2 separate regions of the Homo sapiens genome follow, and region 2 is linked to region 1. The links come from fine-mapping of genetic effects on plasma protein levels. A gene starts in region 1. The other region holds a variant in brackets. All regions are shown on one strand. Distances are between the middles of the regions.

Region 1 (8,000 bases):
TTGGAACTTGTCTAGTGCTGAGACCCCCTCAGGGCGTAGTGAGGTGATGTGGTGGCAGCCCCAGAGGTGATATCACTTGCTGCAGGTATACTTTTTTCTCCTTTGTATCTCTTAGACAATAGCTCCCACTGCTGTCAGGAGCAACTAAATCTTCTGTGTTACTGCTTCTAACACAGGGTTAGAAACAAGAGATAAAGTCTGTGTGAGGGTGATGTCAGCAAGCTCTTACTCAAGACCTGAGGGGCACTCCCTTTATTTAAGTAAACAAGATAAGCTTTTAGCACAGAGGCATTATGGCAATCCTGTCTTTATTTGTTCCTCTGACTCGTTCAGAGGAGGATCTGACTTGGCCTGTCAAATCTGTTTTGACTGCCAAATCCTTTGTCTTTCTCTTGCTTACTTCCTGGTTATTAACTGCACTCTGGTTAGATGAGCTTTGATGATTCCATGTTTTGCCAGGACAGTGACCATAGGTGTTTATAATGCTGACTCAGACAGGTAATACATGGTCCCAACTTCTAATCACCCCAGAAAGAACTGCCGGCCAGGCGCTGTGGCTTACGCCTATAATCCCAACACTGGGAGACCAAGGCAGGAAGATCACTTGAGCCCAGGAGCTCAAGACCAGTGTGGGCAACATAGCAAGACCTCATCTCTGTGAAAAATTAAATAAATAGGCTGGGTGCGGTGGCTCAGGTCAGTAATCCCAGCACTTTGGGAGGCCGAGGTGGGCGGATCATCTGAGGTCGGGAGTTCGAGACCAGCCTGGCCAACATGGAGAAACCCTGTCTCTACAAAAAATACAAAAAAATTAGCCGGCGTGGTGGCGCATGCCTGTAATCCCAGATACTTAGGAGGCTGAGGCAGGAGATTCGTTTGAATTCAGGAGGCAGAGGTTGTGGTGAGCCAAGATCGCACCATTGCACTCCAGCCTGGGCAAAAAGAGCGAAACTCCGTCTCAAAAAAAAAAAAAAGAAAAGAAAAATAATTAGCCTGGTGTGATGGCACACGCCTGTGGTCCCATCTACTTGAGAGGCTGAAGTAGGAGGATCACTTGAGTCTGCAGTGAGCCGTGATCACGCCACTACTGCACTCCAACCTGGGGGATAGAGTGAGTCCTTATCTCAAAAAACAGAAAACAAAAAAAAAACAAAAAAAAACTGCCTTTTGTTAAGCTTATTTTGTGTCTGTGACCATTTCCTATTAGATAGATATTTGAGGCCCAGAATATCTGCTGCCAGTTGAGGCCAGGTAAGAGTTACTGGCTGCTCTTGTTAAGCAAATATTTGAACTCAGTAGGCCTGAAGATGGGGTAACTGTTCGGATACTCTGCTTGAAATGCTGTCAGTGTGGTTAATGTTGATAATGGCCTCTGTTGGATGCCTGACACGCTGTATAAGGCACTTCGTGTAACTTAGTTTCATCCTCCCAACATTTTATATATCAGGAGACTGAGCCTTTCGTCACTGTCACTAATAAGTGGCAGTGGCTAGATTCGAACCAAGTTGGTTAAGCCTCTAAGCCCCACATCAAGCGCTCAGCCTTGTTCGCTCTGGAGTACCAGGATGCTTCCAGACTCCCTGGCCGTGCAGAGCAGCTTCCTAGCTGTTTTCCCAGTGCCAGTCCCATTCCTTGGGTCTTCCCCTTATAATACTGTTGAAATAGTAAGTTCAAAGTTTGTTTTAGTCACAACTAAGAAAGACTTTTGAATTGCACATTTTGGAGCAGGAAAGTCACATTGTTTCTGACTCAAAATGCCTGTTGCCTTTTCCAGGTCCCCATCTCAGCACCTGCCTCAGGCTGCAGTGCCACTAGTTTACACACGGGAAAACAGTTTCTAGAAACGATTTCTTTTTATTTTTATTTTGAGACGGCGGGGTCTCACTCTGTCACCCAGGCTGGAGTGCAGTGGCACAATATTGGTTCACTGCCACCTGTTCCTCTCAGGCTCAAGAGACCCTCCCACCTCAGCCTTTTGAAGTAGCTGGGACCACAGGTGTGTGCCACCAAACCCAGTTAATTTTTTGTGTTTTTGGTAAAGATGGGGTTTTACCATGTTGCCCAGACAGGTCTCAAACTCCTGAGCTCAGGCAATTCTCCTGCCTTGGCCTCCCAAAGTGCTGGAATTACAGGTATGAGTTACCATGCTCAGCCTCTAGAAATGATTTCTAATGTATGTAGCTGCAAATAGAACTGGGCCCAGTTTCTGAATGGCACTTTGAGTAACTTAGCTTCATCCTCCCAGCATTTTACATATCAGGAGACTGTGTATCAATAGCAACACACTTTTAAAAGTCAGGAACAAAGAAAGTAAGCAGCTGGTAGAAGGCTCCTTGCCCAACTACACTTCAAGTGTCCTCCTCTTATCACTTCTTGGCCTTTTGGCTAAGATCAAGAAGAAGAAGACCAGGCATAGGGGCTCACACCTGTAATCTTAGCATCTTGGGAGGCCAAGGCAGGAGGATCGCTTGAGCCCAGGAGTTCAAGACCAGCTGGAGCAACATAGCAAGACCTCATCTCTATTTTAAAAAAGAAAGCCAAAAGAAGAAGGAACAAAGGGGGAAAATGTTTTCTTCTCAGATAAAAATAAGGTTAAAGAACAAAACAAAAACCAACTTGAATAAATAAGCATTCAGGAAAACGTATCTGAGGCCAGATAGAGTGGCAGAGTAAAGACATGCATGTTTTATCCCGGTATTCAGAAGTTATATTTGGAAACTTCTTATACCCTGTTCCCACATTATCTGATAAAAAGCCAAAAATAGTTTTCGTCATTCCCTTACCAGAGGAAGGAGAAAATATCTCTGATATCTTTTATGGATTGAAATTAAAGATCTGAAGGTAAATCTTCCTGATGTTTTGCTATTTAGTATAACAAACATTGTAGAAGACGTTTAAAAACTATCACTAGGTTGTGATTAAATCCAGATTACTGTTTGAAGAGAAACAATATATTTTAAAGATAAATCATTCAAAAGTTTGTTTTGCTTTTTTTTTTTCCTGGGAACTTCATATTGTGCTTTCTTGCTAATTGCCAGAGCTGGGTTGGCCTTTTCAGTCACGCATCAGAGCATAACACTTGATAAACCGTCATCCCTCCTGGTGTATGGTCTCCAGGCCCAACAGAGCAGGCAGAATGGGAGAGAAGTAACTGCCTAAAGTTTGGAAAACTTTTTATTTTGAAGTAAGTTCAAACTTCCAAAAATGTTGAAAGAATAGTGTAGTAGAACAACTCCTGTATACCCGTACCGAGATTTACCAGGTTTAAAATTTTGGAACCTTTGCCCTGTCATTATCTGTGTGTGTGTGTACGTACGTGTGTGTTCTCACAGGCATGCACATACACATTTTTTCTTCTAGACCATTTGAGAGTAGGTCTCCTATATCTTGTTCCTCTAACATTTTTTCTTTTTTCTTCTTTTTTTTTTTTTTTTTGACGGAGTCTAACTCTGTTGTCCAGGCTGGAGTGCAGTGGCACGATCTCCGCTCACTGCAACCTCTGCCTCCCGGGTTTAAGCGATTCTCCTGCCTCAGCCTCCTGAGTAGCTGGGATTACAGGCGCGTGCCACCACGCCCAGCTAATTTTTGTATTTTTAGTAGAGACTTGGCTTCACCATGTTGGTCAGGCTGGTCTTGAACTCCTGACCTCGTGATCCACCCGCCTCGGCCTCCCAAAGTGTTGGGATTACAGGCGTGAGCCACTGCACCCGGCCCCTCTAACCTTTAATACTAATACTTCAGGGAAAATACCCAAGAGCAAGGATATTCTCATACATAATCACAGGACAGTTATCCAATTCGATTAATTTAATATAAGTACAATATTTTCATCTATTCCACAGCTCCTATTCTAAGTTTGTCAACTCTCCCAACAATGGAACTGACACAATTTTATAATAGGCACACTGAAAAATGAAACCATTTCCCACTTCTAAAACAGTGTAGAAAGCTTCTGAATTCTTAGTTTGCTAGAAAAATGAACCAGTTGCCTATCCGTAAACACCAAAAATAATTTATAATCAGCAGAAACATTAGAAACCCAACTTACCTCTGTGTTTCTGAGAAGTGGCGCTTCAGAGATGAAAGCAGCCAAGGTCATCAGTGGGATTTTGATGTGAACTTTGGTGCTGGGCTGTTGCTGCATATTTTCCAAAGTAAATAAGTCCCAATCCAAACACCAGGCAACCAGCTTGGTCAGCACAAACCCCCTCAGCTGTGCCTTTGATAACTGTAGAGTGGCTTGCAGCTCCTCATCTCCAGTTCTTAGAGCTGACACTTTGAGTATATGACGGTTACTGTGTTAGCATGCACACATAGCCTTGGTGCAGGAGCAGCCCCTCTTGAGGTCACCACATAAACAAGGCGCTCTTCAGGCCTCTGGGGACCAGGCTGCATTGAGGGTAGCTGAAAGTAGAGACCATGCATCTGCCTCCAACTGTGTCCTCTCTTCTGGGATGATCACAGCATCTGCCCTCCACCTGCTCTCCAGGACTGATGTGGCTGGCTCAGCTACTAGGCGGGTGTCCCTGTCCTTCCAAGAGCTCGTTCCTCAGTGAAAGGTGGAGGAGAGAGGACAAAATTAGTGGCTTACAGAATAAGGGGATTGTGGCATGGACCTTTCTTCAGTCAAGGGTTGCTGTGTTTGTTGCCAGTAGGTGCAGCCCAGCACTCCTGTCTGTTGTGGGACAGATAGGACTATTACTGAGCAGTGCCTCCCAAATTCAGGGCCACTTAGGCATTCGTGGGGATCTCTGAGGCTGTGATACATTTTGTGTTTATGGGTGTTTGTTTGTTTGTTTGTTTGTTTTGAGACAGAGTTTCGCGCTGCTGCCCATGCTGGAGTGCAGTGGTGCGATCTCAGCTCACTGCAACCTCTGTCTCCCAAGTTCAAGCGTTCTCCTGCCTCAGCCTCCTGAGTGGCTGAGATTACAGGCGCACACCACCATGTCCAACTAATTTTTTGTATTTTTAGTAGAGACGGGGTTTCACTATGTTGGCCAGGCTGGTGTTGAACTCCTGGAGTGAAGTGATCCTCCCGTCTCGGCCTCCCAAAGTGCTGGGATTACATGCGTGAGCCACCACGCCTGGCCCTATGTGTTTTTTGAGACAGGGTCTCACTCTGTTACCCAGGCTGGAGTGCAGTGGCGTGATCTTGGCTCACTGCAGCCTCAACCTCCCGAGCTGAAGCAATCCTCCTCACCTCAGCCCTGCAAGTAGCTGGGAATACAGGTGCACACCACCATGTCTAGCTAACTTTTGACTTTTTTGTAGAGACAGGGTCTCACTATGTTGCCTAGGCTGGTCTTGAACTCTTGGGCTCAAGTGATCCTCCTGCTTCAGCCTTGCAAAGTGCTGGGATTACAGGCATGAGTCACTGTGCCCGGCCTTATGATAATTTGTTTTTTAATTTGTGTTTTAAATTTTATGATCTAAAAAGTTTTAAGAATATTCTGGATTGTCTGGAAGATCAGCTTATCACAGAGACTGCTCCTCAAGAGCATGTTTGGGAGTGTCGGCACCCAGAGTCTATCTGAAGAGAGAATGTGACTCCTAGGAGAATCTGCGGGTGTGCAAGGGGCCCATGGGGGTGTCTGTGCATTGCTCCGTTTGAGAAATTCCAGAGTGTAAAGGTCCATTGTGTTCAGGACACAGACCGGTGGTTGTGTCTGAGTCTGATTTTGCACTCTAGCTTTTGTCAGAGCTGTCTTCTTAGAGCCTTCATCTGTCACATACAATACTGAGTCTTCAGCGTGGCACCACAGGCAGAGGCTGCTGTCTGTGCCCACACTCCTCGTGGGCCCACCTCCCTCATTCTCTGTCTTGTTCTCACACATGCAAAGCCCGGCCCCAGCACAGCCCTGGCACTTGCTATTCTTTCTGCCCAGGACACCATCCCTGCAGACCAGCAGGTGGCCGCTGCTCTCACTGTTCGCTCTTGGTTTCACCGAGGCGTCACCAGCCACCCTGGCTGAAATTGCCCCTTGGCCTCCAGCTCTCAGTATTCTGCTCTCTGAAATGAGGGTGACAGTTACACCTACTGCATGAGGTTGTTGTGAAAATTAAATGAGATACATTAATTTATCTCATTAATTAAATGAGAAAATTAAATGAGGTTAATGAATGTGTGGAAAGCACATAGAGTGGTGCCTGGCATTCAGAAAATGTTAGTCCTCATCATTTCATGGTATTACATATTTATTCACAGAAATGGTCTGGGAGGGGACACAGCATTCATTTTTCATTCTATGTACTTCTTTGTTTGACCTTTTTCTATGTGTATGTATTACTTTTGTTATTTTTAAAGCCAGTACCGGCCAGGTGTGGTGGCTCACACCTGTAATCCCAGCACTTTGAGAGGCCAAGGCGGGTGGATCACTTGAGGTCAGGAGTTCAAGACCAGCCTGACCAACATGGTAAAACCCCGTCCCTACTAAAAATACAAAAATTAGCTGGGTGTGGTGGCACACATCTGTAGTCCCAGCTACTCGGGAGGCTGAGGCAGGACAATCGCTTGAACCTGGGAGGTGAAGGTTGCAGTGAGCCGAGTTCATGCCACTGTACTCCAGCCTGGGTGACAGAGTGAGACTCTGTCTAAATAAATAAATAAATAAATAAATAAATAAATAAAGCCAACATATTTCCTGTCTATTTGGATTTCTGATCATGTAACCCACTATTGGAAAAATTTGATTTCAGTCCCTCTTGACATTGACATTTTTCAGTCATTTTCCCATTTAGTGGTAACAGCTTGTGTATGGCTTTTTTTTTTTTGAGACAGAGTCTCGCTCTGTCGCCCAGGCTGGAGTGCAGTGGCGCAATCTCAGCTCACTGCAAGCTCCGCCTCCTGGGTTCACGCCATTCTCCTGCCTCAGCCTCCCTAGTAGCTGGGACTACAGGTGCCCACCACCACGTCTGGCTAATGTTTTGTATTTTTAGTAGAGACGGGTTTCACCATGCTGGCCAGGCTGGTCTTGAACTCCTAACCTCATGATCCGCCCGCATCGGCCTCCCAAAGTGCTGGGATTACAGGCGTGAGCCACCACAGCTTGTGTATGGCTTTAACCCCACTGTAGAGCAGTACCTCCTGTCACACATACTCCATTGTTCTTTTGCAGTTTCAAGGTTTGTCTTATGGCTAGATATTTTTTCCAACTTGGAAAAAAATTTTTTTAGTTAGAAAAAAGCGGGGTCTCACTATGTTGGCCAAGTTGGTCTTGAACGTCTGGCTTCAAGCAGTCTTCCCACCTTGGCCTCCCAAAGAGCTGGGAAGACAGGCGTGAACTACCTCATCCAGACTTTTCCATCTTTTAACATGAAATTCTAAAAATATACAGAGGGGTCAGGCACGGTGGCTCATGCCTATCATCCCAGCACTTTGGGAGGCTGAGGCAGGAGGATCACTAAAGTTTGGAAAACTTTTTCTTTTGAAATAACTTCAAACTTTCAAAAAAGTTGAAAGAATAGTGTAGTAGAACAACTCCTGTATACCCGTACCCAGATTTACCAGGTTTAAAATTTTGGAACCTTTGCCCTGTCACTGTGTGTGTCTCTGTGTCCAGCTTGTGTGTGTGTGTGTGTGTGTGTGTGTGTGTGTGTGTGTGTGTGTGTGTGTGTCCGTGTCCAGCTTGGGCAACATAGCAAAACCGATCTCTCTCTCTCTCTTTTTTTTTTTTTTTTTTTGAGACGGAGTTTTTGCTCTGTTGCCCAGGCTGGAGTGCAGTGGCTCAATCTTAGCTTGCTGCAACCTCTGCCTCCTGGGTTCAAGCGATTCTCCTGCCTCAGCCTCCCAAGTAGCTGGGATTACAGGCGCCTGCCATCATGCCTGGCTAATTTTTGTGTTTTTAGTAGAGACAGGGTTTTACCATGTTGCCCAGGCTGGTCTTGAACTCCTGACCTCAGATGATCTGCCCGCCTCAGCCTCCCAAAGTGCTAGGATTACAGGCATGAGCCACTGCTCCCGGCTAGCAAAACCCATCTCTACCAAAAAAAAAAAAACTGGG
Region 2 (9,426 bases), 100 kb after region 1:
AGGACGGACACATGCTGAAAACGGGTGAAACTAGAAAACATGGCGCTAAGTGAAAGAAGCCAGCCACAAGATCACGTGTCGCATGACTGCATTTACGTGAAACATCCGGAGTACCCAAATCTATACAGACAGAAAGTAGATTATACATTGCCTAGGTGCAGAGAAATGGAAGGATTGGAGGTTGACGGCTAAAGGATGTGGATTTCTTTGGGGGGTGATAAAAATGTTCTAAAATTGATTGTGGTGATGTGCGACTCTATGAATACGCTAAAAACCGCTCGGTTGTACATTTTAAATGGGCGATTTATGCGGTATGTGAATTACATCTCAAGAAAGCTGCTGCAAAAAATATCATACGGGTTGAGCCTAGTGGTATTAAAAAAGTATAAATATGGCCAGGCGCGGTGGCTCACGCCCATAATCCCAGCACTTTGGGAGGCCGAGGCGGGCGGATCACGAGGTCAGGAGATCGAGACCATCCTGGCTAACACGATGAAACCCCGTCTCTACCAAAAATACAAAAAAAAATTAGCCAGGTGTGGTGGCGGGTGCCTGTAGTCCCAGCTAGGTGGGAGGCTGAGGCAGGAGAATGGCGTGAACCTGGGAGGCGGATCTTGCAGTGAGCCAAGATTGCGCCACTGCACTCCAGCCTGGGCGACACAGCGAGACTCCATCTCAAAAAATAAATAAATAAATAAAATAATTGTTTGGGTACACTGTTGCTGTTACGAAGCCTACGATTTGACTGTCTTGCCTTCATTGATGATCTTTTTCTCCCCATGGTTGCTTTTAAAATCTTGTGTTTGGTATCTTGTCATTTACTACTACCTTGAGTCTAGGCCTGGATTTTATTTAAATATATGTTTGGTATATATTGTGTTTCCTGAATTTACGAATTCATGTTTTACCAACAAATTTGGAACATTGTGTTATCTCTTCAAGTATTGCCTCCTTCATTCTCTAGATTCTCTCCCTCTAGTACTTCCAGTCTTTAAAATTCTTCCCTCCAAATCTCAACTTTCTAATGTTTTCTAGCTCCTTGTTTCTCCTACTGTTGTTTGTATAAAATTATAACGAAAAGTGTTTATAAGAAATTGTAAACAAATGTAAAACTAAATAAACATTGTTATGCAACATTTAAAAAATTGTTTGAACTGAAGGATAATAGTGACAAAGCCTATTAAAACCTCTGGGATACAGCAAAATTAAGAGGAAGGTTCATAGCATTAAATGCCTACATCAAAGAGCATGAATAGACAATCTAAAGTCATACCTCACAGAACTGGAGAAACAAGAACCAACCAAACCCAAACCCAGAAGAAAAAAGAAATAATAAAGATCAGAATTAAATAAAATTGAAACAAAAATACAAAAGATATATGAAACAAAAAACTGATTCTTTTAAGAGATAAACAAAATCAATAGACCATTAGTGAGATTAACTAAGAAAAAAAGGGAGAAGATCCAAATAAGCTCAATTAGAAATGAAATGGGAAATATTACAACCAATACCACAGAAATATGAAATATATTCAAGGCTACTATGAACACCCTTATGTGCACAGACTAGAAAATTTAGAGAGAGTGATAAATTCCTGGAAATATACAACCCTCCTAGATTAAAACACAAATAAATAGAAACTGCACTGGGTATAGTGGCTCACACCTGTAATCCCAGCACTTTAGGAGACTGAGGTGGGCAGATCACTTGAGGCCAGGAGTTTGAGACCAGCCTGGCCAACAGAGTTAAAACCCTGTCTCTACTGAAAATAAAAAAAATTAGCTGGGTGTGGTGGTGCACACCTGTAATCCCATCTACTCAGGAGGCTGAGGCAAGAGAATCACTTGAGCCTGGGAGGCAGAGGTTGCAGTGAGCTCAGATTGTGCCACTGCACTCCAGCCTGGGCGACAGAGCGAGATCCTACGTGGAAAAAAAAAAGAGAAAGAAACTGAACAGACAAGTAACAAGCAGTGAGACTGAAACAATAGTAAAAAAAATTGCCAACAATAAAAATGTCCAGGACCAAATGGATTAACAGCTGAATTCTATCAGGCATTCGAAGAATTGGTACCAATCTTACTGAAATGATTTCAAAAGATAAAGAAAGAGGAAATCCTCCTTAAATCATTCTATGAGGCCAGTAACACCCTAATACCAAAACCAGGAAAGAACATAACAAAAAAAGAAAACTATAGACCAATAGTTCAGACTCTGTAGGTCTATAGTTCAGCCCCTGATGAACATAGATGCAAAAATCTTCAACAAAATACTAGCTGAGTCCAACATTATATCAAAAAGATAATACACCATGATCACGTGGGTTTCATATCAGGGATGAAGGGATGGTTTAACATATGCAAGTCAATAAATGTAATTAATCACATATAAATAATTAAAAATTTAAAAATATGATTTCAATTGATGCAAAAAAACCCATTTCACAAAATCCAGCATCCATTTATGATTAAAACCATCAGAAAAAGCATAGAAGGGACATACCTCAAGGTAATAAAAGCCATCTATGAAAAATCCATAGTCAACATTATACTAAACAGAGAAAAATCTACAGCATTTCGCCTAAGAACTGGAACAAGAAAAGGATATCCACTTTCACCTCTTCTATTCAACATTGTACTGGAAATTTTAGCCAGAGCAATCAGACAAGAGAAACAAAGGGCATTCAAATAGGTAAAGAGGAAGTCAAACTGCTGCTGTTCACTGATGATATGATTGTATACCTAGAAAACCCTAAGGACTCATCCAAAAAGTTCTTAGATCTAATACATGAATTCAGCCAAGTTTCAGGATACAAAATCAATGTACACAAATCAGAGGTAGCACTGTTATACACCTCCAATGACCAAGCTGAGAATCAAATCAAGAACTCAACCTCTTTTACAACAACTGCAAAAAATAAAATACTTAGGAATGTATACCTAACCAAGGAGATGAAAGATCTCTAAAAGGAAAACTAAGGGACACTGCTGAAAGAGATTATACACAACACAAACAAGTGCAAACACCTCCCATGCTCATCGATGAGTAGAATCAATATTGTGAAAATGACCATACTGACTAAAGCAACCTACAAATTTAATGCAATTCTCATCAAAATACCATCATTACTCTTCACAGAACTAGAAAAAACAACCCTAAAATTCATATGGAACCAAAAAAAAGCCCTCAAAGCCAAAGTAAAACTAAGCAAAAAAAAAAAAAAAAAAAATCTAGAGGCATTACATTACCCAACTTCAAACTATACTACAAGGCTAGAGTTACCAAAACAGCATGGTACTGGTATAAAAATAGGCACATAGACAAATGGAACAGAATAGAGAACCAGAAATAAAACCAAATACTTACAGTCAACTGACCTTTGACAGAGCAAATACAAAGTGGGGAAAGGACATTCTATTCAACAAATGGTGCTAGGATAATTTGCAAACCACATGTAGAAGAAAAAAGCTGGATCCTCATCTCTCACTTTTTACAAAAATCAACTCAAGATGGATGAAAGACTTAAATCTAAGCCCTGAAACCATAAAACTTCTAGAATATAACATTAGAAAAGCTCTTCTAGACATTGGCTTAGGCAAAGACTTCATGAATAAGAACT[C/A]AAAAGCAAATGGAACAAAAACAAAGATAAGTAGCTAGGACCAAATTAAGCTAGAAAGCCTCTTCACAGAAAAAGAAATAATCAGCAGAGTAAACAGACAACCCACAGATTAGGAGAAAATATTTTGCATACTATTCATCTGACAAAGGACTAATATCCAGAATCTACATGGAACTCAAACAAATCAGCAAGAATAAACAAATCCCATCAAAAAGTGGGCAAAGGGTATGACTAGGCAATTCTGAAAAGAAGATACACAAATGGCCAAGAAACAAATGAAAACATGCTCAACATTACTAATTATCAGGGAAATGCATATCAAAACCACAATGAGATGCCACCTTACTCCTGCAAGAATAGCCACAATTAAGAAAATAAAAAAACAACAGATGTTGGCATGAATATGGTGTAAAGGGAACATTTTTACACTGCTGGTGGGAATGTAAACTAGTACAACCACTATGGAAAACAGTATGGAGATTCCTTAAAGATCTATAAATAGATTTCATCCACAATCCCACCACTGGGTATATACCCAGAGAAAAAGAAGTCATTATATGAAAAAGACATTTGCACACTATATAATAATTTATACTTAAAATTGTTTAAATTTAATATTAACAAAAATAAATGTAATATGCCACACAAGTAGGTATTCAATAAAACTAAATACAATTACGTTTAACTTTTGAAACTATGTTATACTATGAAAAAAATCCTATTAACTTTTGAATATTTAGCCAAGGAAACCAAGTATATCTCTTCTTTAAAAAGTCTGATTCCAATTTTAACAAACAGGTGTTTTTGACAACCAGTTTATTTCCTTACTGAAATTTTCAAGGCACAGAAAGAACAAAAGAAGAAACATCCATTACACTGCCCAAAACAACAGTACCTGAAGGATTTAGAGGCAAAAATGAAGCCTGAGAATAGCAGGACATAGACATATTTCGTAACATAGACTCATAGCAGAATAATCGTTATGTTGGTTCACTAGGGAAGAAAACACTAAACAGCTCTTGCAAATACACTCAATATACAATAAGATAGCTTGTGATTTTAACGAGTTAGCAATGCAGAACAATGAAGCAAAAGCAAACAAAAAAACTAAAAATAACTAAATAAAACAAACACTAAATAAAAACAAAAATAAATCCATTTTCTAGAAAAATTTTTAAAGACTTTGCTTGATTTACCAAAGAATTCAGTATTGACTTATTCTGTCTCCATTTTATTTTATAATGGAACCCATCTAATTTTATGCTAAATGTATGCCGTAAGGACACCTTGCTACTCTGGAAAGAATAAGAGGAGAGTGGACAGAAGGCCATACTCTATTGAAAAAGAGTATCTCCAGCCTGGTAACAGAGACTCCATCTCAAAAAAAAAAAAAAAAAGAGTGTGTTTTCATATATGATTTTGTGACTCTACATTTTTAAGTAAGGATGAAGAACTTGGTAATTAAATGATTCCTCAGTTGCTCATCACTGTCATCAGACACCTTGAGTATACTGTGGGGACAGCATCTGGAAGAGGAGGAGACCTGAGTAATAATTTGGATGGAGCCGATTTCCACAATCCTACTTTCCCATTATCTGCAGTTCAGAATTTAACTAAGTATCTGTATTGTTAATCTGGGTGAACGACCTCAGTAGACACCAGACAGCTGGATGCCTGCACTTCTTTAGATTTCATATTAATGGTTCATATACTCTCCCCATCCCTGTCACTTTTATACTTCCCTGAAACTGGATTACATATGAGATAGAAACAAGGAATCCAGGTATTATATTGACTCTTTCTCAGGAGCCACTGCATTGGTGTTCATGATGCATTACTGAATGTACCAGCTGCCTCCCTCTTCTTGTGAAGGCCCTTCTTTATTCCCTCAGATGTGCTCATCACGAGATAGCTTCAAGCATATCATCTGCTTGCCTTGCCAGTTATAGCAACCATAAAAATAAATTTGCAGCATCATATATAGCTTGAATATTCTCAAAAGATGTTCCTAATAGCTCTTAAAATAAAATGTTTTCCACAGAGTAGCTATACATAACGTGCTCTCAGCTTATGTAAACTTATGTTTTTATTGGTCTTAAAGCAAAACTTCTCCTAAAATTGAGAAAAGAACTAAAGTCTTTTGTCATTAGATGAAGAAAGATACAGCATCTAATACTGTGAACTTCTCTATTTTAAGATGTTTTCAGACATCAAGACTGGATGATAAAATTATTTAACAATTTGGAATATAAATTAAGAAATAAAAAACCTTTATACTATACTATATTACTAACATTTTTGTTTGATCGTGGCTGCCTTATAACTTTTTGGTAGTTCATTGAAAATAATGGCTACTCGTGAGAAAACTGAAATAGCCTAGGACATAGAAGACAGAGACAGAAAAAAAAGGTAAATTAACTATTTGTGCCACGTGGTAAAGAAAGTTTACAGTATGTAGTCATTAAATGTACTTGCTTATAATTACATAATATAACCAATGATGAACAATTTTAAATGCAATTTAGAATTCAGAATATTTTATATTTAATATATGTTTCTCAAAGAAATATAAGATCTACTGAATGGGGAGATACTTTATATGTGTAATTACTTACAAATGGGAGAAAACTTTTACAATAGTTTGTACTCTTTAGCTATAAGCTGTAATTTAAGAGATTCAGTAAGAGTAGCTTTTTGTAACTTAAATATTCTATATTTTCCTTGCACACATTTTTGCCTTTAATCATGTATTTTATTCAACCTGCTAAGATGGTAGAGAATATACATACGTAAGATTACATTAATAATTACTAAAATAATGGTCTATGACAAATTTAAAGTGCAGTAGGAAAAAAGTTTAATAAAAACAACAGAGATATACAGAATGTGGCTTTCCACAGTTTGTCTCCCATATTATTCCTATCATTTACTCTGTTTCTAAGGTTAAGTAACATTAAGATGAGGCGTAAGTGTTGTAATATGCCTTTAATTATTAAATATAAATGTATCACATGGCAATTATATTCAACATACTCTTATTCCAAGCTATGTACAATTTTAATAATTTTATACAGGTAGCTTTGAAAATGAGCGAATTTGAATATAACCAATAATCACAGAAATATTTATAGTGCAAATATTCTCAGCAAGATTTGAATTGTTGGTAAATTCAAAACAAATAGAAATACAAAGAAAAATTTTGTATAATACTTTTCATCTAGTTTATGTTACAGTGTTTTAAATTCAGCTTAGTCACATATCATGATACAATGCTTTTGGTTTTGTTTTTTTGAAACAGAGTCTCACTCGCTCCGTTGCCCAGGCTGGAGTGCAGTGGCGTGATCTCGGCTCAGCTCACTGCATCCCCTGCCTCTCGTGTTCACATGATTCTTGTATCTCAGTCTCCTGAGTAGCTGGGATTATAGTAGTGTGCCACCATGGCTAGCTATTTTTATTTTTTTTGTAGTTTTAGTAAAGACAGGGTTTTGCCGTGTTGGCCAGGCTGGTCTGGAACTTGGCCTCAAGTGATCCACCCACCTCAACTTCCCAAAGTGCCAAGATTATGGGCATGAGCCATGGCACCTGGCCCTGATATGTTTGGAAATAGTGGGTGAATGCTGCATTTGAGATACTAGAGACCTGTTTGGAGCATTAAGCGAATGCATCTTATTAAGAATGTATTCTTTACCATTCTATGCAATGGCTTACATATCTGTGTATTTTCTTGGCTTGTCTACATGATATACAAATATTTGGATACATACAGAAATATAGGTCACTCATGTAAAAGCTTTTCAATCTGGCACATAAATTCAGGTTATTTGAAAACGGAATGGTAAAGTGTTACTGAAGAACTTTTACTATGGTTCATGTTTGGTAATATTTGCTAATATTCTAAAAACAAAACAAAAACCAAAAAATACCTTGATTTCATAATGTAAACATCTGATGTCTAAATTAATCAATAAAATAATTTTTGTGTTTTAACTAATTATATTTTATTTTGGTGCCGCGTAATTTCATGATAGATTAAATACTGAGACTCATTAGAGGTAAACTAGTGAATTATCATCCCGTTAAGAAAAATTTTGCTTCCGTTCGTGGGGGAGCTGCGGCGGTGGCGGTGCAGGAGGCCGGGCCGGGGCGCGGAGGGACCGACGGATGCACGGGCGGGCGGTCGGGAGCCATGGAGCGCGGCCCTGGGGCCCGGGGGCGCGGGCCGGGGTGGCCTTCCCACGGCACGACATGGAGACCTGTGGTTGCGAGGCTCCCTGGGGCGGCTTGGACCGCGATGGGGCTGGGCCCTGGCCTCCTAATGGGGCTGCCGTCTGGGGCTCTCACCCCTGCCCGCGACTCGGAGCACCCCCACCCCTCCCCTGCCCGGCCAGGCCGGGCGGCGTTGTTGGCGGGGGCCCCGGTGGAGGCCCGGCCCGGGAGGCGCCTGCCATGAACGGGCTGTCGCTGAGTGAGCTCTGCTGCCTTTTCTGCTACCCGCCCTGCCCCGGCCGCATCGCTGCCAAGCTCGCCTTCCTGCCGCCGGAGGCCACCTACTCCCTGGTGCCTGAGCCCGGGCCTGGTGGGGCCGGGGCCTGGTGGGGCCGGGGCCGCCCCCTTGGGGACCCTGCGGGCCTCCTCGGGCGCTGGAAGCTGCACCTGACGGAGCTCGCCGACTTCCAGTACAGCCAGCGCGAGCTGGACACCATCGAGGTCTTCCCCACTAAGAGCGCCCACGGCAACCGCGTCTCCTGCATGTATGTTCGCTGCGTGCCTGGTGCCAGGTACACGGTCTTCTTCTCGCACGGCAACGCGGTGGACCTGGGCCAGATGAGCAGCTTCTATACTGGGCTGAACTCCCGCCTCCACTGCAACATCATCTACGACTACTCCGGCTACGGTGCCAGCGCGGGCAGGCCTTCCGAGTGGAACCTCTATGCCGACATCGACGCCGCCTGGCAGGCCCTGCGCACCAGGTGAGGGCGACCCTGGGGGCAGCTCAGCCTGGGCACACCCAAGAGGGGACCAAGCCGGGGGCCGGGGGGCGGGCTTCCCTGGGAGGAAGTTGGGCGGCCCTGCAGGAGGGGAGCCACAGTGGATGCACAGGGCCAGAGAGCCGGACAGGCGAGCTTGGGTGTGCAGGTGCCGCCTCCACATGGCTGAGGTGTGGCCAGGCGGTCCTCCCACACCCTGGCCTGTGGAGCCAGGCTCCCTGGGAACCCCTGGCCTGAGGACGGGAAGGGGCTGAGCTTATCACAGGGGCGTGGATGCCACCCGGCAGTCGGGAGTGGGTGGTGGTCTGGGGGTCTGTGCACGTGTGGCTGGGAGCCCATCTGCGGAGGCAGCACTTGGGGCCAAGTGAGGCGAGGCTGCTGCATCCAGGTCCCGAGGCCTGGCCCATGAGGCCCTGTGGCTGCGGAGCTTGGCCATCCTGGGGCAGGGCCTGCAGGGTAAGGTGCAGACCCCCAGCACACACCCGAGGTCTGGGCCAGCCTCGATTCCAGATCCAGCCCTCCTAGTCATCCAGGTCCCCAGCCCTGCGCTTGCCTGGGCCCTTCACCGGTGTTTGAGCACCGCCCGGGCCAGTGCTGCTTTGGACGAGGAGACCCGGGTGGGCCTCTGGTGGCCTTTCCTGCTCGCCATCCACTGGGGCTGTCTCGTCCTGGCCCTCCCCAGCCCACTGGTCTGACCTGCTCCCGCAGGGGACCAGGCACAACTCTGAGAAGTCAGAGGCCCTGGGGAGGTGGGGTCCTCGTTGCCTTGGTGATATTGCAGGCGGTCCCTGCTGTGGGCCTGGGAGCTGGTCCCCTGGCAC

Direction of the effects. Positions count from the first base shown, and alleles are read on the strand shown. Strength reflects both the effect of a copy and how common the allele is.
With allele C in place of A in region 2, the plasma level of the protein whose gene starts at base 4,081 in region 1 is higher (moderate association).

The links. PIP is the chance, under the fine-mapping model, that this variant and not a neighbour inherited with it causes the effect. Protein levels are from antibody-based Olink assays in UK Biobank. Linkage for the fine-mapping came from a reference panel and not from the study's own genotypes, which makes the PIPs less certain.
Region 2: its variant is fine-mapped to the plasma level of the SERPIND1 protein (UK Biobank, PIP above 0.99).

The regions. Positions count from the first base shown.
Region 1 is chr22:20,770,194-20,778,193 of GRCh38, reverse strand. SERPIND1 (serpin family D member 1) reads right to left here and starts at 4,081. Exons shown (of 5, transcript NM_000185.4): 1 at 4,049-4,081. The region is part of intron 19 of PI4KA (phosphatidylinositol 4-kinase alpha); the gene reads left to right. RefSeq lists an enhancer at 99-393.
Region 2 is chr22:20,669,622-20,679,047 of GRCh38, reverse strand. It overlaps the pseudogene ABHD17AP4. Among named protein-coding and RNA genes, the nearest start is that of SERPIND1, 100 kb to the left of the region's middle. The variant C/A (reference allele first, on the strand shown) is at 3,618.